Linked DNA regions of Homo sapiens: all the other regions are reported to be linked to region 1. Evidence: microRNA targets listed by miRTarBase, many of them from high-throughput screens and not tested one by one. Region 1 holds a microRNA gene; each other region holds the end of a gene's coding sequence.

Region 1 (5,070 bases):
GTCCCACAGTAGACCCTGCCTCGTCTTTCCCCCACCCTACCCACCACTCTCCTCACTCACAAGGAGGAAATAACCCCATTCTGGTGAGTGGCCTTAGGAATTAGTTCGTTCTAAATAAGAATGATCTGGTCGTCAAAGGGCTCTCAGATCTGAATCCAGCTTCCCGATCTCCCCCAACCCTGAAGCTGGAGAACTGGATGTCTGGCTCCTCATCCAAGCTTTCTGAAGATTCCCAGCCACTCCCTCCAGGAAAAGAGGAATTGAGTGTAAGGTGAGCAGGAAGGGATGGCACAGAGCCACCCCCAGACATAGGCCGGTGCCTAGCTGTTTTCCAAAATATATTTGCAAATGGACAAAGTGGGTGTGGAGAAGGACCCCCCACACTTGCCTCCCCATACAACACCCATTCTCCCCCTGGGTCTTTATTTCATCTTTAAAAAAACAAAACAAAAAAAGTAAAAACTAAACAGAAAAGCACTCTGTACAAAGCCTGGATACTGACACCATTGCTGTTCCTTCCTCATGGGGGGCAGTACTAGGTTTCAGGGACAGTCTCTGAATGGGTCGCTTTTGTTCTTAGACACTCCCTTAGGGCCGCTTCCCCTCTCAGGCCAGCTTCCCTAAGGCTTTCAGTACCCAGGATCTGGAAGGAAAGGGCCAAGCTGGGCTGTGGCATCCACTGGACCCTAGAGTCTCATTGGGCAGGGCCTCAGAATCCACAAAGACTCCCCAGTGCTGTTCCTCTTCCAACGAGGCTGGACCCCTTCCAGCCATCTGGGAACTCAAGCAGGAAGGAAGGTTCCTTAGGACAGGTTCCTGGCATGGCAGGTTCCCCTGGAAGTGGTCGGAGGGCCCTCCCACCTCTTGATGCCAGCAGAAGTCAGGCCTTCCCTGCTCCCTGAGGACACATCAGGGCTTCTGCGGACTTGGCCTTCTGGTTCACACTGGCACGTCCAGACCCAGGTACTCTGGGTTCTCTGCCGTAGGTGTCCCTTTGAAGGTGCTGGGTGGAGCCCCCCGCTCTGGTGGGTCCTGGTCCCAGTAATAGAGGTTGTCGAAGGCTGGGCTGAAGGCAGGAGGAGGGTGGGGCTGAGGGGCAGCTCCTCCCTGGGGTGTCAAGTACTCGGGGTTCTCCACGGCACCCCCAAAGGCAAAAACGTCTTTGACGACCCCATTCTTCCCTGGGGAGAGAGTCTTGGGCCTTTCCAGAGTGGCACCAGCAGGTCGGGCAGCAGGCAGAGGGCCCTCTCGGGGCGAAGGGGGCTGGGGCCGAACATCTGGCTGGTTCACATATTCTGAAAGGTCAAGAGAAGGTGACCCATTAGGGGAAGGAACCCCGGTGTCTCTGCCACTCCCTCTGCCCCCACAGTGGACCCTGGGCTGAAGGTCCCACCTCCCCTGCCCATCAGTCTCTCTGCTTAGACTGGACTCCATACCAGGCTGGGGGCTGCAGGTCAGGGGGGCAACGTAGCCATCAGTCTCAGAGGGCAGGGGTACTGTGGGGTCCTCACTGTACCGCTGTAGAGGGCTGGGGTCATGTGTGGGGAGGCTTTGCAGCCCCTTGGCTGCCCCCATTCCCAGGTCACCATCAAATACATCGGAGCCAGCCCCTTCGGAGGGTGCCAGTGGAGACCTGGGGGCCTCCTCTTCAGAGGGCTCCAGCCCTAGTGTCAGGTCCCCACCGCCACTCTGGGGACAAGAAAGAAAGTCATGATGGGGGTCACTCACGGATCTGGGATGGGGACTCCATGGAAGGTGACAGGGTCACAGGAGAAAAACAGAGGTCACCTTTGGGGTATGACACAGTCACCGTGGAGAGAATGGGGTCACAGGGGTTGGAAGGCAGTAAGAATTTTTTGTAGGGATAATGGGGTTTCCTTGAGAGGTGACAGTTGAGGGAACATCAGAGAAAGGGACCCTAGTCCACCGGGGTTGGGGGAGGTAAGCAGACAGCCACACAGTGTGACCGAGGGCACTGACCCTGGTAGATGAGCTGCGGTGCCTGTGGTGGACCATGCCCCCAGCGCCCGGGGCAGGGTCTGGACAGAAGAAGCCCTGCTGGGGTACCAGATACTCCTCAGCATCCACCAGGTCCCCCATGTCATCGTCCTCCAGCAGTGAGCGGTAGAAGGTGCTGTCCAAGGGACTGGCTGGGCCCAAGTCCTCATTCTGTGGAGGAAGGAGAGGCAGGATGGTGGCCCCTCCCCAGCCCAGCATGCAGCCTTCCGTGAGGGGCCTGGCATACTGGACTCATCTCTCCTTCCCACCCTCTGCAGGAGGGTGCTCTTAGCCACAGGCAGGGATGGGGCACAGAGGCCCAGTACCTGGATGACCACAAAGCGCTGGGGGTCCCTGGCCATGCGGGAGAATTCAGACACCAACTCCCGGAATCTTGGCCGACATTCAGAGTCAATCATCCAACCTGGGGCAGGAGGGAGGTCAGCATGCTAGTCCCAGGCCCTGTGTGCTTGCTGCCTCTCCCCTCCCACTCCCCCTCCAGTCTGGTCTAGACAGTCCCAAGGGACAGCCCAAAGCCCTCAGGTGGTAGAGAAGTAGCACCAGACTCTGGGGTCTTCAGCCAGAACCTTTGGCATCTCTTCTAGTTTCCCTTTTAATTTTTTTTTTCTTTTTGTTTGCTTTTTTATTTTTTTGAGATGAGGTTTCGCTCTGTCACCCAGGCTGGATTTCAGTGGTGCAATCATAGCTTACTGCAACCTTAAACTAGGCTCAAGTGATCTTCCTGCCTCAGCCTCTCCTGAGTAGCTGGGACTACTGGCACACACCACCACACCCAGATAATTTTTTTATTTTTTGTAGAGATAGGATCTCACTATGTTGCCCAGGCTGGTCTTGAACTCCTGGCTTCAAGGGATCCTCCCACCTCAGCCTCCAAAAGTACTGGGATTACAGGCATGAGCCACTGTGCCCAGCTTAATTTTGTACAAGAGTGTTCCTCAAGAGTGGCTTTGGACTTTGACTGTAAAAGGGATACAAGAAGGTTTTGAGGCTCCTAACATACTAGGGCTCCTGGGTCTACATACATCCTGGTCCCCTTTCATGCCCCTTGTGGGCTCCTCCACCCAGGACCTCCCACCCTCCTCCAGGCAGCCAGCACAGCTCAGCCACGCACATTTGACCATGATCATGTAGACATCAATGGTGCAGATGGGGGGCTGGGGCAGCCGCTCCCCCTTTTCCAGCAGGTCAGGGATCTCCCGGGCTGGGATCCCATCGTAAGGTTTGGCCCCAAAAGTCATCAGCTCCCACACAGTCACACCTAAGGCAGAGACAGGGTCAGGAGTGGGAGGGCCAGAGGGAGCTTTAGTGTACTGAGCCAGAGGTTCTGCTCAGGAGTCTAGCATCATGGCAGGTAGCAGGGGGAGATGTGATGCCAGGAGACAGACCCTACCCGGTCTTTCCCTAATCCTGGGAAGTGCACAGACCCTGCAAGGTGGGGCACAGGCAGCCCCTTCCCTCCCTTCACATGCTGAGGTGGCCCCGTAATTCTCCCCATCCCAGCTCTCATCCTCCCTCCAGCCATGGCTCCTCACCCACCCCTCCCAACACCCCCCATCACACACCATAACTCCACACATCACTCTGGTGGGTGAACCGCCGGCGGAGAATGGACTCCAGCGCCATCCACTTGATGGGCACCTGGGAGGGCAGAAGAGGAAGTCCTCCAACTGTGTGTTGTGGGGAGGTGGCCACTCAGAGTTCTCCCATGGGCTAGACACCACTCCACCCAGCCTCCTCTGCTCCTTGGTCCTTCACCTAACCTTGCCCCCATCTGCATGGTACTCTGTCTCGTCAATGTCCAGCAGCCGAGCCAGCCCGAAGTCTGTAATTTTGACATGGTTGGGACTCTTGACCAGCACGTTCCGAGCGGCCAAGTCCCTGTGTACGAGCCGCACATCCTCCAGGTAGCTCATCCCCTGGAATGGGAAGCACCCATGTAGACCTTCTGGGAGGGCCTGGGCCTGGCCACATGCCCAGCAAGAGTCCCCATCCTAGCCCCTTGTGGACATAGGGGTTTGCTCCGGAGAGACCTGCAAAGAGCCCAGGTGCATACCTTGGCAATCTGCATACACCAGTTCAGCAGGTCCTGGGAGCCCAGGCGTCCGCGGTTTTCCCGGACATGGTCTAAGAGGCAGCCATAGGGCATAAGCTGTGTCACCAGCTGCACCGTGGATGTCAGGCAGATGCCCAGAAGGCGGGAGACATATGGGGAGCCCACACCAGCCATCACGTATGCTTCCTGGGGACAAGGGTACGCTGAGAGGGTATGGGAGACCACACACCCCCAAACACCACACAGCCTCCCAACCATCACAAACCACAGCCATGGCCCACAGCCTGTGAAGGCTCAAAGTACCAGCCTGGACAACATGGTGAAACCCTGTCTCTACTAAAAATACAAAGATTAGGCCGGGCACGGTGGCTCACACCTGTAATCCCAGCACTTTGGGAGGCCGAGGCGGGCGGATCATGAGGTCAGGAGTTTGACACCAACCTGGCCAACATGGTGAAATCCCATCTCTACTAAAAATACAAAAATTAGCCGGGCGTGGTGGCTCGCGCCTGTAATCCCAGCTACTCAGGAGACTGAGGGAGAAGAATCGCTTTAACCTGGGAGGCTGAGCTGAGACCGCACCATTTCACTCTAGCCTGGGTGACAGAGCGAGACTCTGTCTCAAAAAAAAAAAAAAAATTAGCGGGCGCTTGTAATCCCAGCTACTCAGGAGCCTGAGGCATGAAAATCGCTTGAGTCCAGGAGGTGGAGGTTGCAGTGAGCCGAGATAACGCCACTGCACTCCAGCCTGGGTGACAGAGCAAGACTCCGTCTCCAAAAAAATAGTCTAGGTTTGCGGGAGTCATATCTCCCCAAACCCCAATGAAGAGAGACCAGAGCCCAGACCTGCAGCCATGGGGTCCTTCCTGTCCTCCTAGCAGGAGAGGGTGGAGGGGCTTACGTCTAAGATTTCTTTGTTGGCTTTGGGGGATGTGTTTTCCCTCAACACTTTGATGGCCACTGGAATTTTCACATTCTCCCCATCAGGGATCCAGATG
Region 2 (5,070 bases), not on the chromosome of region 1:
GTCCCACCTGCTGGGCCCTGGGGGTGGGGCGGGGCTGTTACACCCCCCTTCCTTTCACATCCACAGGAATCCCCTCCATAACCCAGGCCTGGGGACTGTGGGTCCTCTTAGGGGCTGTGACGCTGCTATTTCTCATCTCGCTGGCTGCACACTTGTCCCAGTGGACCAGGGGCCGGAGCAGGAGCCATCCGGGGCAGGGACGGTGGGTGAAGGACAACAGGGATGGGTTGACTGAGAGTTCTCTCTTACCGAGAAGTCCCCACTCATCCCCTAAACTCTGCGTTGCAGCTCTGGAGAGTCTGTGGAAGAGGTCCCGCTGTATGGGAACCTGCATTATCTACAGACAGGTAGGGAGCTGGCAGAGAGGAGGGGCACAGAGGCCAGGTCCTGGGTGGCTGGGATGGGGGCGTGCAGGAGGAAGGACAAGTTGCTGACCAGATTCCTGTTCCCCGTCCCAGGACGGCTGTCTCAAGACCCAGAGCCAGACCAGCAGGATCCAACTCTTGGAGGCCCTGCCAGGGTGAGTCAACTGTGGCTGGAGAAAAGGGGGAGGGAAGGAAGTGGGGGGCTTTTCGGGCTTTTCCGAGGGTCCAGTGAACTTCTAACAGCCTTGCATCTCCAGGCTGCAGAGGAGGTGATGTGCTATACCAGCCTGCAGCTGCGGCCTCCTCAGGGTCGGATCCCCGGTCCTGGAACCCCCGTCAAGTACTCGGAGGTGGTGCTGGACTCTGAGCCAAAGTCCCAGGCCTCGGGCCCCGAGCCGGAGCTCTATGCCTCAGTATGTGCCCAGACCCGCAGGGCCCGGGCCTCCTTCCCGGATCAGGCCTATGCCAACAGCCAGCCTGCAGCCAGCTGAGATGGAGGGCCTGGCACAGCGGGGCGTGCACTGCCCCAGCCCCCCGTAGCAGGGGCATGACTGTTTCCCAACCAGCACCCAAAGACGGGCGCCATTGCCAAGTCACAGGATGTGATCTACCCCGGACTTCCTATCTGAGCTTCAAGGGAGACATCTCAGGGCAAAGCTTTCGTGATGGAGGAGGCAAAGACAGTAGCCCCCTCCTTATTTCTTTTTTCTATCTGTTCCTCTTAGCCCCCAAACTCCCAGGTTCTCACTTCCTTCTTCTGGAGTTTAACCAGATCCTCCCCACCCCCGCTCCCTCATAGTCTACCCCCACGCCTCAGTGTCTCCTCAGGCACAGGAAGTGGGCGGTGGGGGAGGGGTAAGGGCCTGACAGTGGGTGGGTGGGTATATTCCTCAGGAGTCCACAGACTGGAGTGGACCTGGAACTTAGAGACGGGAGGGACCCGAGCCTGGCTTTTGACCTAAGAACCCTAGCAGGAGAATACAGTCTCCATCCTGCTGTCTCTGTCCTGTCCCCAAGTTTTCAAATAAAACTTTCCAAAAAGTGTTTAGATTTTTACCTAGAAGGCTGAAGACTTGCAAAGGGCCCTGCAGATGGGGGTGTGAGCTTTGCTGTCTGCACGGAGCTCTTTCTGGGGGTGCCTAGCTGGGGATGAGGGGCCAAGAGGGGCTGCGGCATCAACAGTGCAGAGGTGGGCACCGGGGTGGAGGGCCAGAGCCCAGCTCCTCAGCTGCTGTTGCTGCTGCTAGAACACCCCTGGGATCTGCACTCAGAGCCACTGCATTCCCCCTGGGGCTGCAAGCTCACAGTCCTGAGCTACTCTCCCCTTGACCTCTATAACTGCCATCACCTCCACAACCTGCCAGCCTGGTTCCTTCATCAAGTCCTCCAATCTGACCTCCGTCTGTCCGCTATGAGTCCCACCTATACCCCTGTTTTGACATCAGTAGCCTTATCTGCACTTAGTCATCGTATACCCCTAGAGGCCTTCTCCTTACCCCATCACTATGGCAGCGGTCCATCTCCACTCACTCTCTCCCACTCTGGCCTCCCAAAGTGCTGGGATTACAGGCATGAGCCACCGTGCCTGGCCTTCACTCTCTCAGTTGTCACCTGCAGTCTTGGCAACAGTTTTGCTTGTCACCACTTTCATTTTAATCCCCATCTAATTTGTCCTGCCTGTCCACCCATCACCTGCTGATTCTTAACCCCAGCCTCCTACCCCATATAGCATGCTACATCAGCCAGTTGGCACAGAGATTAGGACTCTGGGCTCAGGAGCCGGACTGCCTGCATTCAAATTCCATGTCTACCACTTACCAGCTGTGTGTTCTTGGGCAACTGTGCCTCGGTTTCTGAATCTGTAAGATTGAGAGGATATTAACGGTGTTTACTTCAAAAAAAGGTGGTTGTGAGGCTGAATGAGTTACCATTTGTAAAGCACTTAGACAATAAATGCTCAATAATGCTAGGCATTATTAAAATAAGAGAAATACAGGATCCTCTATGGGAGCTCATAGGTGAAGTGACTTCTAGGTAGAGACATGACACATAGTAGGAATCTGCCAGGAGAAGCGAAGGACAGAAAATGCTCCAAGGCAAAGGGAACCACAGGCAAAGGAGAGGCTTATTCAGAGGACCTGGCAGAAGTGCATTAGGCACAGCGGAGGGTAGAGTGAGATGGGGGCAATGGTAAGATGAGGCTGGAGGGGCAGACAGAGCCAGATCACACTGCGCCCATAAGTCATGCCAAGGAGCTTGGGCTTTATCCTGCAGGGGAGGTGAAAGGGAGTCACTGAAAGTTTTAAGCGAGGGATGAACACAGTGAGTTAAAGGCTCTAACTCCACTGGCTGCTGTGCTGATCTAGTGGTCAGCAGTCTGGAGTCAGGCGGCGCCTTTCAAAGGCTATTGCAAGATTTGAGTGAGAGGGGATGGCGGCAGTAGCGGTAGGGATGCAGAGGAGGGATGGATTACAAAGAGATGTTTAGGGTTTTTTTTTTTTTTAAAGGCCCCACCTATCACATCTTCCAGATTTCTGGTTAGAGCCTGTAACACCCCCCAACCCAAATCCTCATCATCATAATACAGCATAGCTCCAAGTTGGTTTCAGCTCATCACCTTCCTCACCTGGCAATCTCTCTCTCTCTCTCTCTCTCTCTCTCTCTCTCTCTCACAAACACACACACACCCTCCACCCCTTAAGCCCATCTGTGATCCATCTGTCTAGCAAAAGCTCCAACCTGTCAAACCTCTTCTAGGATATTTCAAGGTCTAGACCATCTCCCCAGGGCCTCTGTAGAGGCGGGCCGCGCTTGACAGATCTTTCTGAGGCTTGAGGGGCTGAAGAAAGGAGAAGCTGAGGCTTTCACTTCCAAGCTTCTCTTCTTCCCACTTGGAGTGCCACAGGAAGCCACAGAGGAGGAACCCGTGCGCCTGATTCCTGCCTGGTGGTCCCAATTTGAAAGGGACCACCCTTCCCTTAAGCCCACCCCCCTACAGACCCCACAAATGCCCCTGGGTCCCTGGACCTCTGAGGACCCCACCCTGGGCCTCCCCAGGAGAGGCCCAGGTCGCGGTTAAGGGCAGGTAGCTGGGGATGCGGAGGAGGGAGGGAGGGAGGCTTCGGGGGCGGACACCGGATGCGGGGAACCACCGGCAGCGGGATGTGGGGTTCTGAGGGCTGCGGTGCTTCTGAAGATGGCTCAGCGTCGCGCCAGGTGGACGTGAGAGCTTTACCCTGGAGGAGGCGGGGGTTGGAGTCCCGCCTACCCACTGGGACAAGCCAAGGGGTCAAACGCCCCCAACCCAGCCCGCAGATCTCCTCGAAGCACCCGGTTCTCCTGGCCCGCCCAGACCCACGGCGCTCGCCGCCTTCGCCCGCTTAGGACTGAGTCCGCAGCGCCGCCGCCTGGCGAGGGGCGGAGTTGCCACCACTTCTGCGCAGGCGGGATGCAGCCTGGCCCGCGGCATCCCGGGAGTTGTAGTCTCGACGCTTCGGGGCCACCCCAGGGTCTGGTCCCTGACGACGCGCAGTGAGGGCCCCGCCGCTACCCCAGCAGTCGCCTCCCAAGTTCGCGGAACGCAGCTGACCGGCTCCCTCTGGACTGGGTGACATGACTGCTCCCAAGCAGTCGTTTGTAAACTGAGTTTCTGTAAAACAATTTTATTTTTCATATGTGACTGTAGCGGGGTATGATTTGAACTTTGTTTTCCGTCCCCCAGCCCGGATTCTCTGTCTTCTCCTGTACAGCCGTTCCGTTTTCTTACCTCGTCTCCGTCACCGAGGCCCTCAGCCCTGAACACAAGGACTGGGCAGTTTCCCTATTGATTCCTGAACCTGGAACTTAAGACATCTTCCGAGGGGCCCCCCCTTGCCACACCCTCTAGCTGATCGACTCACAAATACCTGTGATTTCTCTCCCCGTCTCCACCTCCAGGTACTTCCCTAGTGGACTCCTTTCCCTCACCGGCGTAGCATTCCAGCCAGAAGGAGTGCCCGTCCTAGCGCCCCGTTCCCAGGGACAGACCCTCAGGGGGAGCTCCTAGGGCCCCAGCTGTCCCTCCTCTTTCTTAAAGCCTAGCTAGGAGGATAGGGACACATTGAAAACGGAAGAGGGAGGGTCTCCGGGACAGTCAAAGGTTCAACAGCAGGAAGTTCTTTTTTTTTTTCTTTTTTTTTGAGGCGAAGTCTTGCTCCTGTCGCCCAGGCTGGAGTGCAATGGCACGATCTCGGCTCACTGCAACCTCCGCCTCCCAGGTTCAAGAGATTCTCCTGCCTCAGCCTCCTGAGTAGCTGGGAATACAGACGCCCGCCAACACTCCCGGCTAATTATTTTTGTATTTTTAGTAGAGAGAGGGTTTCGCCATGTTGGGCAGGCTGGTGAACTCCTGACTTCAGGTGATCCGCCCACCTAGACCTCCCAAAGTGCTGGGATTACAGGCTTGAGCCACCGAGCCTGGCCAGGTTCTTAAGAAATTACTTATAGGTGGGGAGGGTCTTTGGAAGCCATCCGGCCAGGGCACCTCCATCTTTGGCCCTGCTCTGTAGTCTCTCAAAGATGGGTTTAAACTTCCAGCTTGGTTTTCTTACAAGGAGGGAAACAGAGCTGGGTTGTGGAGAGAAACCAAGTGTTTTTTAATTCTTAATTTTTATGGGTACATAGTAGGTGTATGTATTTATAGAGTACATGAGATATTTTGATATAC
Region 3 (5,070 bases), not on the chromosome of region 1:
TCCCAGGTAGCTAGGACTACAGGTGCTTGCCACCATACCTGGCTAATTTTTTTTTTTTTCATAGAGACAGGGTCTTGTTATGTTGACTAGGTGGTCTCGAACTCCTGGGCTTAAGCAATCTTTCTACCTCGGCCTCCCAAAGTGCTGGGATTTCAGGTATAGCCATCACCTGGCCTCATGAAATTCTTGACTATGAAATTCATATTCATATTCAGAAATTCAAACTCTGACTCAGAAATTAATAAAACAGAAAACAGAGATAAAATGAGAGAGCTGGTCTCAGCTCTAGGCCTCTCTTGGACGGGTATGTGGCTTATCAGTCTCTTCAGAGTTTTGAGAGTGGAGCCTGCCCTTCAGGGTCTTCAGGAGAATGGATAAACTCAAGCCTCTGAACTTTAGCCCAGGGGCCTGGCTGTGCTGTGCTCTTAGCCAGCACGAGGTCTATTTGCTTGCATTTGAGTCTCCTGATTAGTTGGTCACCTTTAATCCTTAATGTCTGCTGTAATAATCACACCATCACTAATAATCCTTTACAATTGTTGAGCTATTATAGTTCAGAGTGACAGAAGCAAGAGATGTGGCTTTCCTGAAATGAATAAACATAGCCACCTCATCAAATGCCCAAGCACCCCGTGAGTTAAGTAGGGAAGAGGTGTGCCCCATTTTACAGATGAGGAAAGTGATGCTCTATTTGCCTAAAGTCTCCTTGCTGGTGAGTGGGTGGGCCAGGACACAAATGCTGCCACGTCCCTTCCCGCTATTCCTTTCCTTTGAGACAGACACCTGTTCCTGCTTTGGTCTGTCTCCTAACTGAGATCCTTTGTGTTCACTTAAAGTCCCCCTTCTTCTAAGCAGCCTGTTCTGATTCCCTCCACAAGCCCTTCTCTTCCCTGACCTTTATAGCACCCACTTCTGCACGTGGTGACGAAGTCCAGGGTGGCTACCTTGGGTGGATATCTCATCTCTCAGCCTGACTGTGAACTACTTGCGATTGAGGGGTGGACCCCTGTCTTGGAGGAGTCTTAGCACAAGGCTGGGCTTGGAGAAGGTCCTCAATCCTTATGCATTGACTTGGGATTTGATTTGGCAGGATTGGGCCCGTACGCATCAGAATACATTCTGGGCTGTGTCAATTCCCAGTAGGGCAGAAGTGCTTAAGAAGAAACCCTGCCACCACTGGGGAATCCCCAGCATGTGTGCTGGCTAAAGCAGCCTGTGTGGTGCCTGGATATGTCAGGAGGCGCTGGGAACATAGGTCAACGTTGGTGCAGTCTCAGTGCAGCACAGTGTATTAGTCAGCCCAGGGGCCTGGCTGTGCTTATAGTGTGTTCTTAAACACACTATAAAGAAATCCCCTGGCTGGGCGCTGTGGCTCACACCTGTAATCCCAGTACTTTGGGAGGCCGAGGCGGGCAGATTACTTGAGGTCAGGAGTTTGAGACCAGCCTGACCAACATGGTGAAACCCCATCTCTACTAAAAATACAAAAGATTAGCCGGGGATGGTGGTGGGTGCCTGTAATCCCAGCTACTCGGGAGGCTGAGGCAGGAAAATTGCCTGAACCCGGGAGGCAGAGGTTGCAGTGAGCCGAGATCCAGCCACTGCACTCCAGCCTGGATGACAGAGCAGGATTCTGTCTCACACATACACACACAGACACACACACACAGACACACACATACACAAAAGAAAGAAATCCCTGAGACTTGGTAATTTATAAAGAAAAGACATTTATTTTGGCTCACAATTCTGCAGGCTGTACTGGCATGGCACCAACATTTGCTCAGCTTCTGGTGAGGGCCTCAGGAAGCTTACAGTAAAGGCGGAAGGTGAAGGGGGAGCAGGCATATCACATGGCGAGAAAGAGGGGAGAGGTCTCAGACTCTTTTAAACAACCATATCTATGTGAATTGAGTGAGAACTCACTCATCACCAAGGAGATGGTGCTGAGCCATTCATGAAGGATCCTCTCTCATGATCCAAATACTTCCCACCAGGCTCCACTTCCAACACTGGGAATTACATTTCAACATGAGATTTGGAGGGGACGAGCATCCAAACCATATCAGATGGTGAGACAGGAGAACTTTGTGTGTACCAGCTGCACTGGTCTGAAGATATAACTAAGTCCCTGGACTTTTTCTCCCTTAATTGGAGAATTCCTAATGTTCCATGATCAGCCTGATTGACCAGTGGCTGACTGGTCCTGAGAGGGGAGATAAAAACAGACACACAGCTTTCTCCATAGACAAATCTCAACACTTTATTCATCCTGTGGCAGCAAGAAGGGGACATGGCCCCAAGATAGCCAATCAGGTGAGGTGGCTGGAGTATGTGTTATCTTTCCAGATAGTACATACAGACTGATCATGCAGAAACAGGAAGGGAAGCAATAAGTTAAAAGCCACATAAGTTATGAAAAAATAATATATACTTTATATGTCTTGTATCCCCACTGAGGATTTGCTCCCTTGGAAACCAATGAAGAGCCTGAGGAAAAGCACCAATCAGCACCCTCTTTTGGGACTTTGGGGATGAGAATCTCTGAGTTCCCATGGCCAGAGAGTCAGTAACCCTCCAGTGCTCCCCACAGGCCTGGAGGGCCTTGAGGCCTGGGATGGGCCCAGACCTCTGGCCAACATGTCCTGGCAAATGAGATGAATGAATCTAATGCAGTCTAGAAGAGGAGGTGAGGCAAGGGGCAGGGAGGGGAGAGGAGAGTGAAGGAGGGAAGGAAGCTGTGCAGTGGGAGGCTGGTGCCGCTGGGATGCCTCTGCAAGCCTCAGCATTGAGAGCCAAGAGGAGGAGATAGGAGTATGCCTGCCAACACCCCTGTCTTCTGGTGGGATGTGGAATTTTCCTCTCTGGTAGAACCCTTGTAAGGCTGTCATTTGGGCCCCACAGCTGGACCTCAAGGGCTTGGAAGCTCCCAGACTTGCCTGGACTGTGCCTTCTTCCTGGCCTGCTGGAGGCAGGGGGAGTGGGCATGGAGGGAGGAAGGGGAAGGAGTGAGAAGAAAGGAGGAGCTCTAACCCCATAGGTGTGGGGGGTTCCTGGGCTCCCCCATGAATGCCAAGGAGGGGAGGGCCAGGCTATTTGGCCCAGTGGAGAGGAGAACAGAGGCCCTGAGAAGTGAGATTCTTGGGAAGTGGGCCTGGGGCTTCACGGCAGGGGTGGGACCAGGGGTCTCCAAGGCCTGGTGCACCAAAGCCCGGTGCTCAGGCTGGGAACAACCCGGCTGGGGGCACAGAGCTCAGATCCAGGCTGGGTAGGACCCCAGCATGGCAGGGAGGTGAAAGGAAGATCGAATGCTCCTGCCCAATCTCAAGCTGCCATCTGGCTTCCACTCCCAGGGAGTTGATTATGGCAAGAGCAGCTTCCGGAGAAGCTGCTGGGAGCTGGCTGGGGGCAGCCCATCCAGTTCTGACTACTGCCTACTGGGAGGGACCCATGGGAGGAGGAAGGGATGCGGGTGTTCGGGCTGATCTCTGGGGCCTAGGCTTAGGTCCCAAATAGCCAGGGCCCCTCCTCCCTTCACTCCCTAATACTGTCAGGTCTCTGGGGAGCCCAAAGAGCACGGGAAAGCCAAGAGGGTCTTCAGCAGCCAGCCTTCCCAGGAATTCCAGATACAGGACAGGGCCCACGCCGTCCTCCTCGGCTCCCGCACATAGGTGGATGAGCCAGTCCCAGTCCCAGTTCCGAGGCAGAGACAAGGCAAGGCTTGAGATAGGAGTCAAGGTCAAGGATTGGGCAAGAGTCAGAGGGGCCTTGGCAGAGCCTGATGCTGGAGGAGGAGCCTCAGAGGAGCGAGGAGGTGGAGACAAAACTGACCCCTAATTCCGACTCACCCATCAGGAAAACCTCTGGCCAGAAGGTTGGAAGGATGGGACTGTGAGATACTGATATGGAGCGGAGTGGCTCTGAGGAGCTGGTGATGCTCCTCTCCCACCCTGGCAGCCCACAAAACACAGTCAGTTTTGAACCCCTCTCTCAGTTCAATATCAGGTTTTGCCTCTCTTCTCAACCTAGAGGCTCCAAGCTGCTTTCTTGAGTCTAGCTTAAGTCCCTCCTGCTGCAGTGGAGTGCCCTGGGGTTCCTGGGGTCCAGCCGCCTTACTCTGAGACCTCCGACTCCTGCGAGAAGTACTTCTCTGACATTTCGGTGATTTTGATCACGGGGCCTTTGCTGCCCTTCTTCTTTCGGGAGGGGGCCTTGGAGAGGCCTGATCTGGAGGCAGCTACAGGGAACATAAGGGGTAGGGGAGGGAAGGGGCTGGAGGTTTGGGAGCCACTTAAAATGATGCCTTTAGGATCATGATCCCCTACACCCTCACCCTCACCCCACCATGGGTTCTCGGGGCAAGAGGACTCACCGGTTTTGCACCTGGACTGCACAGCGCTGACCACAGTGGCTGAGGGCGAGTCCATCCTGGGGGTGGGGGACGGGGGGGTGGGAGAGGGATATGATGGGATGCGAAGAGAGCCTGTGGCTTAAACTCCCCTGGGGGCTGGCAAGTGGAGGGTAGTTCTTGGTGGTCACTCCCAGCCCTGGGGTTGCCCTGTTGTGTGGCCCTGGCTAGCCAGCTTGTCCTTCCTGGGCCTCTGTCCCATCTCCATGGCATAAATGGCTAATAGCATTGAGCACTGAGTTTTGACAGGCATTTGCAGGCATAATCACATGAATCATCCCTGCCACAGGTGAACCATGTTTATGATCAGCCCACTTTCCAGATGGGGAAACAGGATGAAATGAACTGGGCCAAGGTCCCAGTTTGTAAGTGACTAAGCCAAGACTTAAACCCAGGCCTGGTAGGCTCACTGTATCATATTGGAAAGGAGAACTGACTTTGTGTAGGCCTGGGCCTCCAGCCCTCCTTCCCCTGCAGCCCTTCCTCACCAGCCCTGGCTCTCACCTGCCCTCCTCGCCCTCCACCAGCTTCCTGTAGGTGGCGATCTCGATGTCCAGGGCCAGCTTGACGTTCATCAGCTCCTGGTACTTGCGCAGCTGCCGCGCCATGTCCTGCTTGGCCTGCTGCAGGGCGGCCTCCAGCTGGGCCAGCTTGGTCTTGGC
Region 4 (5,070 bases), not on the chromosome of region 1:
AAGAATGCACATTAGTGACTGAGGGGTTCCCTCTTGAACCCAGAAGTTTATTAGCATTCAGCAAAGAAGTATATGTTGTTACAAACAGGCAGTGCATCAAGATATCCAGATGTCAGTGAGAGCTAGAAGTGGAGAGGTCAGAACCCGGGTGATTCTGTGATGTCTCAGGGATGGAGAAGAGGAAGCTCAGGTACAGCCAGGGGCCACACTCCCCTTTCTGCACTGGGAGAGAAATAACTCTTACACCTGGGGTGATGATGTACTGCAGTTCCTAATTTCTTCCCTCCTTCCTCCAGCCATTTTATTTAACATGACCTAAATATACATTCCTGTTTTATTCCCCCCCACCCCCACCCCCATATACAGCAGGAAAAATAAGCACCAATAATAATAACAATAATTAAAGTCCCACCTCTCAATAGACCCAACCCTCACACATATACATACCATGTGGATTTTCTTCTTTGGAGTGACTATAGGATTGGAAAGTCAGGGATCAGGCCAGCAAGCCATCACCCTGAAAGTCACTGTTCCCCAAAGTACCATCCACGTGTGAGCTGGAGCAGGGCAGGGGAGGGGGAATGGTGGTAGGGGAGGAGATTCCCCCAAAGCAGCAAGAGGGGTGAAGGAGTTCCCCAAAGCCTCTCTTCTGGGAAAATGTCACAATCAACTGAGCTCCTAGGAAGTCCTATGCAAGGGTTTCCTCAACGAGATGGTAAATTCCTGATAGTGCAAGCATCATTGTCATCTGTCTCCCACAGCTTCTTGGGGAAAGGGGACATGGTTGAAACCCCCTTCCTTCCCCATTGGGTGGAGAATGTTCCCAAAATGCTCCTTTGGAGAAACTCAACAAGACAAATAGCACAACATGGGCACTCTGATTTCAAAACTAAAGCACAAAACATAACGAGGAAAAAAAATAAGACACATGAGTACTCTCAGAGGGTCTAGACATGGGGAAGAAGGGTTCAAAAGAAAGAAAAACATAAAATAAAGCCAGAAAATGACAAGCTGTCTACCAGGTCCCACACGCCTGAGTCACTTGGCGTTTGTCTTCAGTACCTGGGCATCTTCTGCTGTCCCTATCATGGGGGGAGGGAACGGACAGTGTGGTACAGCTAAGGTAGGGAGAGGGGAAAGAGGGAGGGCCCTAGGCAGTTGAGATGCCAGCCCTCTGCACAAGCAGCAGCAATTTTTGTGTCATCTTTGTTTTGTTTAAAACTGTAAACAGCACCGCTTAAAAATAAATCAGAAAAGAACAATTGATAAACATTGTTTTCCATGAATATAAAATGCAAACAATATAAAAATAGATAATTGACTTTTGATATATATATATATATATATTAAAAACAACTTGAATGCAACATACACATGGGTAAACTTGAAGTCTCCCTGCTAAACCCCATGCCTCCCTCTAGCAACTGGGCCTGGGGGCTGAGGGCAGGTGGGGTGGTGGCACTGGCACAGGTAAGGAAAGCTGCTGGCAGCAGGATGAAGGGTACACACCCAGCCTCCTGAGTGTGTGAAGCTACTTCCCTTCTTGGCATAGGACTAAGGAGGGAGAGAGACTGGTGTTTACTGAACCCATTATCCGGGCAGTCTTGTGGCCTGGTACCCAAGCTGAGGCCAGATAGGTAGGGCTGGCTTGAACTGGGCCCCAAGGCAGTGCTTCCTTGGAGACTCTAAAGCACCAAGAAACTGGCATCCTGGCCCTGGGAGAGGCCTACTAGGTGGCCTTCTCTATCCACATTCACTGGTCCTCCAAGGACCAGTCTCATCTGGGAATTCTCAGGATCACAGCTGTCTGGCACTAGGCCTATTGGGTAATAAGATGAAGGCAGCTACTTCCACTAAGTCCCATTTTCCCTTAAAATCACATCCAAAAGCATTATTCCAGGACCTTGCAATGGAGACATGTTGTTCATCTAGTAGTACTCTTGGAGGTGTGGACATGATATCAACAGTTTTAGTGGTCTGGGGTGTATTTGCTGCCACCCAAGCCAGCACTAGTCTGTGTTTGGAAACAGGCCTGAAGCTTGGCTGGCTCTCCCAATGTCACCCTGTGCTGTCAACACCATGGGTCCCCAGACAGGTCTTCCTTCCTCCCCTAGGCTGCCATTGGGTTTCAGCCACAAACTGCTTAGCTCTAGAAATTCAAAGGAACCTGCTTCTGCAGCCACATATCCTGGCTGCCCCACTTCAGGTGGTAAGGATCCTATTCCTGGGCTGGCTAGGGCAGTGAAGGGACTTGCAGGCAGCAAGGCTGTCCAAACCATGAACTCTCACTCAGCCCCAGGCCCTACTCTGTGGTGTGTGACCTTCCAAAGCCCAACAAAGTGTGTCAGGGCTATGCCAGTGCCCCTCAGAGACAATGCCTCATGCTGCCTTCCTGATCCTGAGGGCAGCTCTCAGCCCTTAGCCAAAGGTTGGCCACCTCCTTTTTCTCTTCCCAGATAGGCTGGTGGCCCTTCTCCAGCAGGGTCTGGAGGCTGGTGATGGCTCTACCGCCTGCTGTGGCTGGCACAGTCCACATGTAGACAGGAGCTCAAGCTGCCCTGAAAGAAGAGGCAAGAGGTGGGTTCTTCCCTGTTGTAAAGGCATTTGGTGAGTGTTTACTTCCTGCCAAATAGCCAGGCCAATTTCAGCCCCACCATCCCAGAGCAGCTTTGGTAAGAGGCCAGAAAGTTGGAATTTGGGCACTTCTCTCTTGGAATGCTGTGCTTGGGGTAAGGAGGGCCTTCCTCACCCTCTTTCATTCTCCAGCTCCACAACAGATACATTTCTTCACAATGTATCTGTAGCCAAAGTCAGCCTGAAGAGCTGGTCTGGGTCCCTTGAGTGGTGGTGTTAGTGCCATGCAAATTCATGTGGTGCTTCCAGGGGTGCAGCTTCTACCAGCCAGGTCTGCTATTTGTGAGTAAGGGCACTGGGCCAACCCCAATCTGAGAAATGGTGACAAAGACCAGCATGGACACATCCCCTGGCCAAGAAACAGTTTGCCCACAAAGTCACCTTGACTTAGGGGGCAAACAGCATCTGTTCCCAAGCTAAATTGCCATATCTCAGGAATGGCAAGAACCCTGTTGACTTCTTCTCTCAACAGGCATGGAGATGGTGGGATGTGAGGGCGAGGGTGCAATAATCATAATTTGAGTGAACACAGCCAAGCAAAAAATGTTCCATATGCCATTTCCAATAAAGACATGTAAAAGGAACCCTCTCCTACAGGTGATTAATGAGAGGTTGAGCTTGGCAAGATTAGCCTGTTCCAATGTCTTCCTGACAGCAAGCTCTTCCCCACCAGTATTTCCAACCTAGTTTAACATGAAAACTGCATGGATGCAGGAGAAGGGAGGGTGCCATTCATTCCATAAAGGGCTGCAACTGCCAAGAAGCCCTGTCATTTGATGATGCTAAGGACTCGGCTAATTGGAAGATAAAAGCTCTTTAAAGGGCCCAGAACAGCAGCTGAGATGCCTTTGGTATCCTGTCTTGGGAGTGCAAACCTGGGGCCTTATTACAGAGTCCAAATGATGGGATGGGCAAGGCTTAAGGAACATTTTGTGTTGGGAGGCTTGAGAAGGGAGTTTTCCCTTTTAAGAAACTGAGATACCTTAAGCTCTGCATGGTCTGAAATCCCCTTTCTTGCTGGCTGTGATAAATGGACCCTCATTTTCTATCTTTCCCCTACACTCCACAAAAACCCCAGCCCCTATAGTCAAGCCTAATTTAGGTTGCTTCTCTTCCCTTATCTCAATTAAAAGACCGTGTTCCTTGTGATGAGATTATGAAAATTTCCTTTAGAGGAAAAAAGAACAAAAATTCAAAAGCATCTGCAACTCAGGTAGTCACAAGCTTAAAAGAAGGAAAAAAAATCCTATCATTCCGGAGCTCAACACTCTATGGCAGTGTCCACAACAGAACCTTGTTTTGTCTTCTGTTTGCAAATGGATGAATTTTATCACTCCATCAAGGGGATTAGCATTTTTGTCTTTAACCCAAGCTATGGCAGGACAGTTAAAAGGCCCCCATCTGGTCATGATGCCAAAGTCCACAGCGATAGGCTGTGAGACACACGCTACTTGATCCTCTCTAAGGACAGCTAGCTGGGATGAATAGCTTATAGTCATCTGATATAATGATGGCAGCTATGCCAGGCCAAAAGGAATAGGGGTGGGGAGGATCTGTACCATAATTTCACATTGCTAATAGCAAATAAGCCCCACTTCCCCAAGCGGGAGGCAATGCAGACTTGGCTGCTAATCAGTGGTTCATCATTCATTGGGGGAAAGGGGCAGGGGGCACTAAAGGTTTAGCCTGTGTCAAGGATGCATGCTATATATGTGTGTGCATGTGTGTTTGTGTGTGTGTGTGTATGTATGTGTGTGTGTGTGTGTGTGTGTGTGTGTGTATATATATATATATATATATATATATATATATATATATATATAATCACTAACTTGGCAACTGGAATAGGCACAAAATTACAGCATCCCAAACCCAGCGTGGGTCACAAGAAGAAACCTCGAAAGCAAAAACTGGAGTGCAGTAGCAGCAGCAGCCTCCCTGGGCAGATGCACTTGAGTTGAACGTGGCCATAGATGGCAGAAGAGGCAAGTGGGAAAACCAAGGTGAAAACTCACAGGAGTTTTCCTTGGCCCAAAGGGTTTTCAAGTTAAACAACAACCCCCACCCCCCCACCCTTCTGCCCAACCCCTGATCCCCATTCACATGCTCAGGCCCCGTGTCCCTACTCCAGAATTGATAATAACTACTTGGCTAGGTTTCCATTCATGGCAGTGGAGGAGTAGCTGGTGGCAAGAGAGGCACCTTGCTCAGCCCTCTCCTTTGACAGGTCAAGGCTGGAAGGCCCATAGTGAGTGGGCTGAGGCTGGGGGTGCTCAGGCCGGACCCTGGGCAGCTGAGGAATGCCATGGGTGATGCCCACAGGCTTGGCCTGTGGTAGAGGGCTGGGGCTGAAGCCTCCAGAACTGGAAGAGCAACTGGGCTCATCAACAGGCAGCAGCACATCTCGAGGCCTGGCCCTCATGCTCTGGGAGGCCT
Region 5 (5,070 bases), not on the chromosome of region 1:
CCCTCAGATCCAATGTGGAAACGCTCCCCACACCACCTGGATTCTGACACCCCACATGTGCTGCCTGGCCCCACCTTACCCCATGGCCTGTAGGCCAAATTGTGAGGGAAGAGAAGAGGAAGAACTCTCACTGTGCTTTTACTCAGCCTTGCTCTGGTGACTGACAAAATTGAGGAACTTGTATTGGCCATTTGCTTATTTGAGTAGCCAGCCTAGCTTTTCTTTTGGTTGTCTGTCTTTTTCTTGCTGAGTTGTAGGAGATTTTTTATGCATTCTAAGCACAGGCCCTTTCTCAGATATGTGTGTATTTCAGATATGTGCAAATATCTTTTCCTCTCTATGGTTTGAATTTTATCTTTCCTAAGGATGTCTTTTGAAGAACAGAAGTTTTTTTTTATTCCAATACAGTTCAATTTATCAATCTTTTTCTCTATAAGTAAGGCTTTTGTTTCCTAAGAAAAGTTTTTCCTATTTCAGTCTTGGGGATACTCTTTTATGTTACCTTTTAGAACTCTATCATTTTATCTTTCACATTTAGATTGACAATCTATCAGGAACTGATTTTTGTGTATCTTGGGGGAGAGGGTCATGATTCATTTCTTTCTGTGTGGATACCCAACTAGGTCAGCATCCTACATTGAAAAACCTCCTTTACCCAATGCTCTGCATGCCTCCTCCATCATAAATCATGTGTCCTTGTGGGTATCATCTGTTTCTGGACTTTCTATTCTTTCCATTTTTCTATTTGTTCTTCCTTGTGCCAAAATCTCACTATCTTTATTTCTATATATTTATATTATCTTGATTTCTAGTAGTGTAAGTTCTCTGACTTTGTTTTTCTTCAAGATTGCTTTCGTGAATTTTCATCTTTTGTGGTTCTATATGAATTTTTGAATCAGCTTATCAGTTTCCACAAAAAATTTTCTGGGGTTATTATTGAAATTACAGTGAAACTAGTAATTAATTTGAAGAGAATTGACATCTCTGTAGTATAGAGCCCTCAATTCATGGTATATTCCTCCATTTCTTTTGACAGTTAATTTCTCTCAATATTATACAAATTAAAATACAAAGTTATTATTTTTCATAGTTTTCTTGACCACCTTTTGTTAGAGTAATTCCAATAGTTTATATATAGATTCTTTTGGATCTTTAAAAAAAATTTTTTTTTGTAGAGGTGGGGTCTTGCTATGTCTTGAACTCCTGGCCTCAAGTGATCCTCCTGCCTTGGCCTCAGAAATTGCTGGGGTTACAGGCATGAGCCACTGCACCCAGACTGAATCTTTTTTATACATATTTATGTTATCTGTGAATGATGTCAATTTTATTTATTTCTAATCCTTATAAACTTAGTTTCTTTTTCTTGCCTTATTACAATGGCTAAGACCTCCAGTGCAATGTTGGGTAAAAGTGGGCAACTTTGTCTCATTCCCAATCTCAGGGGAAAGGGTTTCAATGTTTGACTATTAAGTATAAAATTTGTTCAACCGTATGTTATTTTATATGTGTGTGTGTGTCTGTGTGTGTGTGTGTGTGTGTGTGTGTGTGTGTATAATAACATTATACAGTTGAACAAATACTACAGATAGGACTGGCATGGTGGCTCATACCTGTAATTCCAGGTACTTGGGAGGCTGAGGTAGGAGGATCCCTTGAGGCCAAGTATTCAAGACCAGCCTGGGCAACAAAGTGAGAACCCCATCTCTTAAACAGACAAAAATAAATACTAGAGATAAAAAGGGATATTTTTATAGTCATTTCAAACTATAAAAGTCTCAATTTATCAAGAAGGTTAAAACACCCTAAACTTGTATGCATCATACACACACACAGACACATACACACACACACACGGCTAAGATTTATTTTAGCTAGAATGTCTTGTTTCTAATGGGAAGGTTAGCCACATAACCCAGACCTCCCCCCTGCACTCCTTCCTCTCTTTGTATATTCTTTTTTTTTTTTTTTTTTGTTGAGACAGAAGCTCACTCTTTCACTCAGGCTGGAGTACAGTGGTGCCATCATAGCTCACTGCAGCCTCAAACTCGAGCTGAAACAATCCTCCCACCTCAGCCTTCCAAATAGCTAGCCTGGCTAACTTTTAAACTTTTTGTAGAGACAGTATCTCGCTATGTTGCCTAGGCTGGTCTTGAACTCCTGGCCTCAAGCAATTCTCCTGCCTCAGCCTCCCAAAGTGCTGGGATTACAGGCATGAGCCACCGTACCTGGACTCTCTTTGTATATTCTTTTTTTTTTTAAACATAAACTCAATATTTTATTGTCTTCATAATAAAACAAAAGATGACACTTAGAACTGGATCACTTGGCCCTTGCTCTTCTTACCTCCTCCCAGTTCAAAATGCTTGTATCTCTTAATAGCCAGCATTCTCTTAGATCTGCAGTTGGGCTTCATGCACTCAAAACTTAGCACAATCTTCTTTGTAGTTTTAGCCTTTTTCTGGAAAATTGGCTTAGTCTCCCCACCATAGCCCCTCTGCTTCCTGTCATAACATGGCTTTCCCTAGGCATACAGGGAAATGTGTCCTGTGTCACTCTGTGGGGCTGGTGCTTCCCACACTTCTTACAGAAAGTCCAGTGGGTTTTAGGAGTGTTCACCATGTTTGCAGGAGCACTATTGGCACTCTTTGTGTTTTCTTGATTTTATTTGCTGTTAAATATGTTGCAACTATTTTTCTGAGCTCATATGTGTCTTTCAACTTTCTTTAATTTTTTGTGTGTTTTCAGATGTTTTCCATTATTATATGGTCATACCTTAGTGTTTACCTTTATGGCTTCTGGACTTTGTGCTTAGGAAACTTTTCCCCCTCCAAGATTATAACATACTCTTCTGTGTTTCCTTCCGATAGTTGTATAGTTTCATTTTTGTGTTTAGTGCTTTAATCTGTCTGTACTTTTATTTTGTGTATTGTGTGAAGTATAGATATAACTTTATTTTGATCCAAATAATTTGCTCACTACTCTCACACCGTTTACTGAAGGATCTACCCTTTCCTCTGATTTGAAATGTCTGCTGTCAAAAGCTATTTTGTTCCTCAAATCTATCTGTTTATTCTGCACCTGTGGAGTTTTTAACAGGGTGAATTGTGCGATTTCTCCTCAGCCTCTATTCCCTCGTAGCTGTCCCTTCACCAAACCTCCTGTCCATCATGGTCAGCCAGCAACCCTCCCAAAGGTGGGCTAATGATGCTGGCACATGGGGCTCTTATGAGGACCCAAAAGTAGATAGTAGGCTCCAGAAACGCCAGCTCCTTTCCACCCCTTTTTGCTTGTCTTCCCTTTACATGCTGACAGTCCCTCTGAGCCTCAAAGCAACAGCAGCCCCTCAGCCAAACAAGGGCTGGACCCAGCATGGGGCAGAAAGACTCGAGGGGATCTGGAATGTTCCTTGACATTTCCACCCACTGCCCTGGCCTGGGGCCCTCCTGGGAGCTGGTTGTTTGTACGGTGGGTTCTTCCCTCCTTGAATGCACCGTGGTTCTCCTGTAGCTCCTCCAGGTGTTGCCTACTTCACAGTCTCTTCCAGAAAAGGAGGGGCTGCACATCCTACTCCTGACTGACTCTCAGGCTCTGTGCCCTCCCAGTTTGAAGAGAAATTACTCCCACTCCTCAAAGGCCCTTGTAAGGCATGAGCACACAATGGCCTGGCTACTTTCTTGAAAAGAGGGAGGAGAAATAGAACAAAACACAGACTAGTATCTCCACAAATCACTCTCCCACACATGTATTATTTGTGTCATTCACAAAAATTATCTTAAACCGAGAGGAGGAAGCCAGGGTAGGACATGTGACATAAAACACCATTTCTGCCAACAAATGTTTATTAAACACCTATGTGCACAGCACAGAGCCAGGATCTTCATCTCCACTGCAGTTCATGCTTCTGGAGAGCTGTCCAAAAGCTCGGGTTGGGCTGGTTTGAGGCCTGGGATCCAGGCCCGAGGTGAAGATGGGAGGACCAGCCCAGCCCCAAGAGCTCCCAGCCTTCAGACTCCTGGGTGGCCTTGACTGGCAGCAACAGCCTTAATAAGTATTGGAGCTGGAGACCAAACCCAACACCATTTTCCAGGAGGGGCTAATCCATGACCAAGGTGCTTATGAGAGCATCCTTCCTGGGCCTTATGAGAGCATCCTTCCTGGGCCCTTCTCTTGCCAGAAAAGGCCGTGGATGGCAGACCTGCAGGTGCGCCCTGGAGGGAGTGGCTGCCGACCGGCCTCCCACAGCGTTGGCTCTTGGCCTGAGCCTTTGCCTCTCTCTGGCCTCCTGTGATATCACACCCAGGGTAGTGGTCATTGTCTGTGTTCTCAGGGACACTGCTACGTGTTAAAGACTTACTGACACAGAATTAAGACTTTCGAGAGAGGAACTGAGAAGGGAAAAGTTGGATGAGAAGTGGGCTCCTAGGAAAGTGAGTGAGTGTGGGACAAACATGGAGTGTGTCTGTTCCTGCCAACTTCCAGACCCAGGCCCAGGAGGAGGCACTGCCCAAGGCCTAGGTGACTTGGAAACTGGGGACCCACTATGGGAGCAGAGGAGCCATCAGTGGTGCTGCCTGGATACCTCAAGAGCAGGCCATCCTCCAGTGACAGGCAGTCTCATGGGAATGGCCTCCCCTAGGATTTGAGGAGGGCGTGTGTCAAGGGGCAGTCACAAGGAAGATCCCCATAACCCTTTGGTTCAGGGCCATAGAGCCTAGACAGGGCCTCTGGCTGTATCAGAACTGCCGCCCATTGTTGGGCAAGAAGTTGCTGATGGCACCAGCACCTTTGATAGAACCTTCAAAGCTGTGGTTGACATAGATGTTGTCAGCTGTGGAGACTCGGGAGGGGTGATTTGGGCAAGAGGCCACCATGACTGCTGCCACCGCCTCCTCAGCCCGCTTCTGCTCCAGTGCCAGAGCCGGGTTAACGTCAGGCCCTGCGGAGAGACAGAGAACCACAGTCAGAGAGGTGGGCAGGGGACACAGGTGAGAAGCTATTCCTGGTTCTGTACAACAAACCCAGGGCAGGAAGGGTCCCAGGGGGGATCTGTGCCATGTGCCTTCCAGGGTC
Region 6 (5,070 bases), not on the chromosome of region 1:
ACACATGTAATCCCAGCATTTTGGGAGGCTGAGGCAAGAGGCTCACTTGAACCTAGGAGTTGGAGACCAGCCTGGGTAACAAAGCGAAATCCTGTCTCTACAAAAAAAAAAAAAAAAAAAAAAAAAAAAAAAGCCCAGGAGCAGTGGCTCACACCTGTAATCCCAGCACTTTGGGAGGCCGAGGTGGGTGGATCACCTGAGGTTAGCAGTTCGAGACCAACTAGGCCAACATGGTGAAACACCATCTCTACTGAAGATACAAAAATTAGTTGGGCGTAGTGGCAGGTGCCTGTAATTCCAGCAACTCAGGAGGCTGAGGCAGGAGAATAGCTTGAACCTGGGAGGCAGAGGTTGCAGTGAGCCGAGATCATGCCGCTGCACTCCAGCCTGGATGACAGAGTGAGACATCTCATAAAAAAAAAAAATTAGCTGGATATGGTGGTATGCACCTGTCCTCCCACCTATTCTAGAGGCTGAGGTGTAAAGATTGCTTGAACTTGGGAGGCTGGGGTTGCAGTGAGCCAAGATTGTGCCACTGCACTCCAGCCTGGGCGACAGAGTAAAACCCTGTCTCTAAAAAAGAAGGGAGTTAGGGCTGGGTGCGGTGGCTCACGGCTGTAATCCCAGCACTTTAGGAGGCCGAGGCTGGTGGATCACCTGAGGTCAGGAGTTTGAGACCAGCCTGACCAATATGGTGGAACCCCGTCTCTACTAAAAATACAAAAAGTAGCCGGGTGTGGTGGCGTGTGCCTGTAATCCCAGCTACTTGGGAGGCTGAGACAGAGGAATCACTTGAACCAGGGAAGTGGAGAGTGCAGTGAGCCGAGATCATACCACTGCACTCCAGCCTGGGTGACAGAGCAATACTCTGTCTCAAAACAAAAAAAAAGAAAGAAAGAAAAATTTTTTAAAAATTAAATTAAAAATAAGGGAGTTATAATCTTATCTAATGTAATCACAAAAGTTGACATCCTATCACATTTGCTGTATTCTACTTATCAGAAGCAAGTCACTAAGTCCAGCCTACATTCAAGGAAAGGGTACACATGGGGGTGACGTCCAGGAGGCAGGGATTACTGGGAGCCACGTTAGGAGCTGTCTACTACAAGGAGGAAAAAGCAATGAAAGGATGAAATCTAGGATGGTGGTTATCTCTGAGTGGAAGCAAGGGGGAGAGATGCAAGAAGCACATGGCCGGTGAAAGTTATTTGTAATAATTCCATTCTTGGGGCAGGTGGTGGATTTATAGGTGTTCATAAGTGAGTTGATTATGGACAAATGGGGAGAGAGTGTCATGAACCAAGGATTATATTTAGTCCAATTCAGTAATATTTAAAATATTCAATAATAAATGAAATAAAAATTGCCAACTACTCCTGACCTTGTTCTGAGCCCCATCCATGCACTCCACCTGGTCTTAGTTTAACACTGGCTCCACCTGACCCTCCACTTGCCCCAAACTAACCGTTAGCCCTTCACACACACTGACCCTTGCTATAGCACCACGATCTCTCCATAGTCTGCAATAGGCCCCCGGAGTTCTATTCCCTGAAACTTTTATCCATGTAACCTCACCTGTAGGCTGCTATATGTAAAGATAGTAGGAATGGCTGATGGAGTGGCCCGAGGACCAGGAGACAGGGCAGGCTAACAGTTCTGCCTTAGCAGTAGCACTGTGGGCCCAGAAGACAGGTTTGATGGCTGGTATCACGACCTCACCTATTGGCCTCCTACATGGCAAAGGCTGGGCCAGGTCCTGATGGTTCTTCCTCTTTGAGGCTTCTGCTCCTGGTATCCAGATATAGCTAAGTCTGTCTCTGAGAAGTGCACCTCTGCCACAGCACCAGGCCTGTAACTCCCTTGTTGGTAATAGACTCTATCAACTCTCTCCTTTCCTGTCTTTGATGAAGTAAGCTACCATACTGGAGATGGCTATGTGTCAAGGAAATGAGAGTGGCTATTGGCCAACAATGAGTAAAACACTGAAGCTTTCAGTTTGACAGCCCACTAGGAAGTAAATTCAGTCAGCAACCAAGTAAGCCTGGAAGCCTGGATCCTTCCTCAGTTGTGCCTTCAGATGAGACTGCAGTTCTATTGGCCCTTTGCTTGCAGCCTTGTAGGAAACATTGAAGTGGAGGACCCAGCCAAGCCTGGCCTGGACTCTTGACCCACAGAAAATGTGAGATATAATAATAAGTATTTGTTGTTCTAAGCTGCTACATTGGTGATAATTTGCTACACAGTAAGAGATAATGTATACAGGTTCTTTTCATTTCTTTTGCTATTACAAAGAGTGTTTCTGTGGGCCAGGCATGGTGGCTCACGCCTGTAATCCCAGCACTTTTGGAGGCCAAGGCAGGTGGATCACTTGAGGTCAGGAGTTCGAGGCCAGCCTAGCCAACATGGTGAAACCTGTCTCTACCAAAAATATAAAAAATTAGCCAGATGTGGTGGCATGCACCTGTAATCTCACATACTTGAGAGGCTCAGGCAGGAGAATCGCTTGAACTCAGGAGGTGGAGGTTGCAGTGAGCCGAGATCGTGCAATTGCACTCCAGCCTGGACGACAGAGCAAGACTCCATTTTAAAAAAAACAAAACCAAACAAAAAGAGTGTTGCTATGAACGTTGTTGTAACATGTCTCCCAGAACACAGAACACAAGAGCCTAGGTTTCCCTTGGGTATGTGCTGGGTATATGCCTAGGAATGGAATTGTTAGATCTCAGGATGTTTGTTTTGTTTTGAGACAGAGTGTCCTTCTGTTGCCTAGGCTGGAGTGCAGTGGTGCGATCTTGGCTCACTGCAACCTCTGCCCCCCAGCTTCAAGCAATTCTCCTGCCTCAGCTTCCCAAGTAGCTGGGACTACAGGTGCCCGCCACCACGCCTGGCTAATTGTTCGTATTTTTAATAGAGATGGGTTTTCACCATTGGCCAGGCTGGTCTTGAACTCCTGGCCTCAAGTGACCCACCTGCCTTGGCCTCCCAAAGTGGTGGGATTACAGGCCTGAGCCACCATGCCCAGCTGGATCTCAGGATTTACAAATGTTCCACATTACTGGTAGTCAGAAAACCATTAAAGTTAGGGTCATGCCATGGCTGTAGTGTGTTGGCCAGGGTTGGGAGTAAAGCCTGGCCTCAATCCATGGAAGTTGGGATTGTCTGTGGGCAGGGTTGGAGTCGTACAGAGGGCCGAGTTAGGGGTCAGTCCTTACGTAGGGTTGAGGGTGAGTGTGTGGCCACATTTGGGAACAATTTGAAGTCTGGTTTGGGGTTGGGTTTGGACAAGGTTGGAGAACACTGTGAGGGTGGGTTTGGGGGTCAATCTAAGGCCAGGGTTAGAAGTTAGGCTGTCATCCTGTGCAAAACCTGACCCCTGGTGATATCATCAACCTACCAAGCTGTGGCCGCACAGGACCCAGCCACCCACAAGATGAGATCCACTCTGGGTCCAGAAAGCTCTTTCACTCAAGGCGGGGGTGGGGAGATGGAGGACAAGTGAAGAAGAAACTGGCTCCCCTCAGATGCAAAAAGAGAAGGCAGGCACAGGAAATAGAACACAACACTGACTTTAATGGGGCAGCCCTGAGCCGTAACCTTCAAACCTTCCGCCTCAGTACCCCGTGCGCGAGGAGGGAGGGGCGACTGCTACGGGCACATCGTCGATGTCCTCCCTACTCCTGGCGATCCCACGCCTCACCCCTTCCTCTCCAGCTGCTGCGGTCTCCGTCGCCGAGGTGGGTCCCAGGTAAGCTCCCAGGAGGGGCAGGGGAGCCCCTCAGCGGCCCGGGACAGATTCCCCCATGGCTGAGGGCATGGGGAACTAGCCTGGATGGAGACGCCGCCGTCCTCGGAGCTGGGCGGGGACCTGATTCTGGGGGTGTGGACAGAGCCAAGGGACCGCCCCCCAAGGCCCAGCGCCGGGAGATGCAAGGCCGGGCCCAAGGTGTTGGACACTGCTTTGGGGGACAGGCTAGGTCTCTGCACGTGGCTTCTGGGCTCTGGAAAGCGGTCCATTCTCCTGACCCGGATCTCCGGAGTGGTAGGAGGCGGCTCAGTCCCGGGCCTGCGCTCCTAGAGTTCCTGTCCCATCTCCTCCCACGCTCACCCATCCCAAGGAAGGAGGGCACTCGGGCCCCAGCAGGCTCGTGAGAGCAGCGGGCTCCGCCCTCCCAATGGTCTATCCATCGGTGGGTGGGTCCGGCGCGGCGTCGGGGCTCTGGCGGGTACCCGGGCGTCCCCGCGCGGCCCGGGCCGCCGCTCACCGCTGCTTACGCTCCGCCTGCTGGAGCCGCCGGGAGAGGTCTTCGATCCGCACATTCTTGAGCTGGAGCAGGTGCTCCAGGCGCCTTACCTTCATCTGCAGGACCTAAGCCGCACCGCGCAGGCGTCAAGCCTGGCGGTCTGCTCCCTCCTGCCCGGCCTCTGCTGGCCGCGAGCCCCCACCCGCAGCCTTCCTAGACCCCTCACCTGCACGGTCTCTTGAGAGGCCAACAGCTCCTGCTCCTTTTCAGCGATCTGGAGGACGAAGCTGGGGTCGCCCTGCAACGCCCGGTTATACGCTGGAGGCCGAGGCGCCGGCGGCCGGTCCCAGCTGGGGTGGGAAGCAGCTTAGCGGAGGCTTGGACCTCGGGCCCTACACTCACCCTTCCAGGGCCCTCGACCAGGCCTTCCCTTCTCCCCCTCTAGCCCCTTTCCTGCCTCCCGTCTCAGGCTCAGCGTACCGTGCCCCCCAACCCCAGCTGTGTGCAGAGATCACCAGCCTGGTGAAGTCTGGAACTCCCAGCTTCTTTACCTGAGCTGACCCCCTCCCTGGGGGTCCGGGACACCTTCACCTCGGGCCTTCTGGGATACACCTGAGACAAGGCAAGTGGAGGAATGACTGTGCTGGAGTCTCATTCTCCTGCTTCCCCCTCCCTACTTCCACTCTCACAAGTGACAGGAAGAAGGACAGAAGGAAAGCTCCAACCGGGAGGGAGAAATGGAAAAGGCCACCTTACCCACATCCATGTAGCCACTGCCATCCTGGGGAGCCAGCTCCTGAAAGAACCCCGGGGGTCCGCTGTAAGCCCG

Evidence for each region. The annotated mature microRNA hsa-miR-4728-5p reads UGGGAGGGGAGAGGCAGCAAGCA and lies in region 1 at 2,466-2,488, opposite strand. An mRNA with a match to its seed (bases 2 to 7 or 8) in the 3' UTR can be bound and repressed. Matches are read on the target gene's strand: a 7mer-m8 pairs with bases 2 to 8, a 7mer-A1 pairs with bases 2 to 7 and ends in A, and an 8mer does both.
Region 2: the mRNA of SIT1 is a reported target of hsa-miR-4728-5p. The part of its 3' UTR that is shown has no 7-base or 8-base seed match.
Region 3: the mRNA of KRT80 is a reported target of hsa-miR-4728-5p. Seed matches in the 3' UTR shown: 7mer-A1 at 3,452-3,458, 8mer at 3,439-3,446, 7mer-m8 at 3,081-3,087, 7mer-A1 at 2,747-2,753 and 7mer-m8 at 2,705-2,711.
Region 4: miRTarBase lists AMER1 as a target of hsa-miR-4728-5p. Seed matches in the 3' UTR shown: 7mer-A1 at 3,571-3,577, 7mer-m8 at 3,354-3,360, 7mer-m8 at 1,142-1,148, 7mer-m8 at 1,093-1,099 and 7mer-m8 at 572-578.
Region 5: miRTarBase lists NPC1L1 as a target of hsa-miR-4728-5p. Seed matches in the 3' UTR shown: 7mer-A1 at 3,969-3,975.
Region 6: miRTarBase lists SPEF1 as a target of hsa-miR-4728-5p. Seed matches in the 3' UTR shown: 7mer-m8 at 3,632-3,638.

The regions. Positions count from the first base shown.
Region 1 is chr17:39,723,914-39,728,983 of GRCh38, reverse strand. MIR4728 (microRNA 4728) reads right to left here and starts at 2,489; the gene lies at 2,423-2,489. It overlaps ERBB2 (erb-b2 receptor tyrosine kinase 2), which reads right to left. Exons shown (of 27, transcript NM_004448.4): 19 at 4,974-5,070; 20 at 4,073-4,258; 21 at 3,780-3,935; 22 at 3,582-3,657; 23 at 3,131-3,277; 24 at 2,325-2,422; 25 at 1,981-2,169; 26 at 1,437-1,689; 27 at 326-1,295. The coding sequence ends at 940. It overlaps MIEN1 (migration and invasion enhancer 1), which reads left to right. Exons shown (of 4, transcript NM_032339.5): 4 at 1-474. RefSeq lists an enhancer at 1,709-2,681.
Region 2 is chr9:35,645,634-35,650,703 of GRCh38, reverse strand. It overlaps SIT1 (signaling threshold regulating transmembrane adaptor 1), which reads left to right. Exons shown (of 5, transcript NM_014450.3): 2 at 67-202; 3 at 289-347; 4 at 459-520; 5 at 623-1,409. The coding sequence ends at 856. LOC101926948 (a long non-coding RNA gene) reads right to left here and starts at 4,434. Exons shown (of 2, transcript NR_135130.1): 1 at 4,271-4,434; 2 at 3,228-4,014. It also overlaps a transcript of CD72 not described here. RefSeq lists a silencer at 1-62 and enhancers at 973-1,022, 3,883-4,262.
Region 3 is chr12:52,167,286-52,172,355 of GRCh38, forward strand. It overlaps KRT80 (keratin 80), which reads right to left. Exons shown (of 9, transcript NM_182507.3): 7 at 4,913-5,070; 8 at 4,373-4,428; 9 at 1,711-4,237. The coding sequence ends at 4,113. Among named protein-coding and RNA genes, the nearest start is that of KRT80, 22 kb to the right of the region's middle.
Region 4 is chrX:64,185,102-64,190,171 of GRCh38, forward strand. It overlaps AMER1 (APC membrane recruitment protein 1), which reads right to left. Exons shown (of 2, transcript NM_152424.4): 2 at 16-5,070. The coding sequence ends at 4,778. Among named protein-coding and RNA genes, the nearest start is that of AMER1, 18 kb to the right of the region's middle.
Region 5 is chr7:44,508,714-44,513,783 of GRCh38, forward strand. It overlaps NPC1L1 (NPC1 like intracellular cholesterol transporter 1), which reads right to left. Exons shown (of 19, transcript NM_001101648.2): 19 at 3,822-4,936. The coding sequence ends at 4,734. It also overlaps the pseudogene RPL36AP27. Among named protein-coding and RNA genes, the nearest start is that of NUDCD3, 21 kb to the left of the region's middle.
Region 6 is chr20:3,773,954-3,779,023 of GRCh38, forward strand. It overlaps SPEF1 (sperm flagellar 1), which reads right to left. Exons shown (of 7, transcript NM_015417.5): 4 at 4,998-5,037; 5 at 4,793-4,853; 6 at 4,468-4,591; 7 at 3,551-4,366. The coding sequence ends at 4,259. Among named protein-coding and RNA genes, the nearest start is that of SPEF1, 5.0 kb to the right of the region's middle. RefSeq lists a silencer at 4,128-4,377 and an enhancer at 4,513-5,070.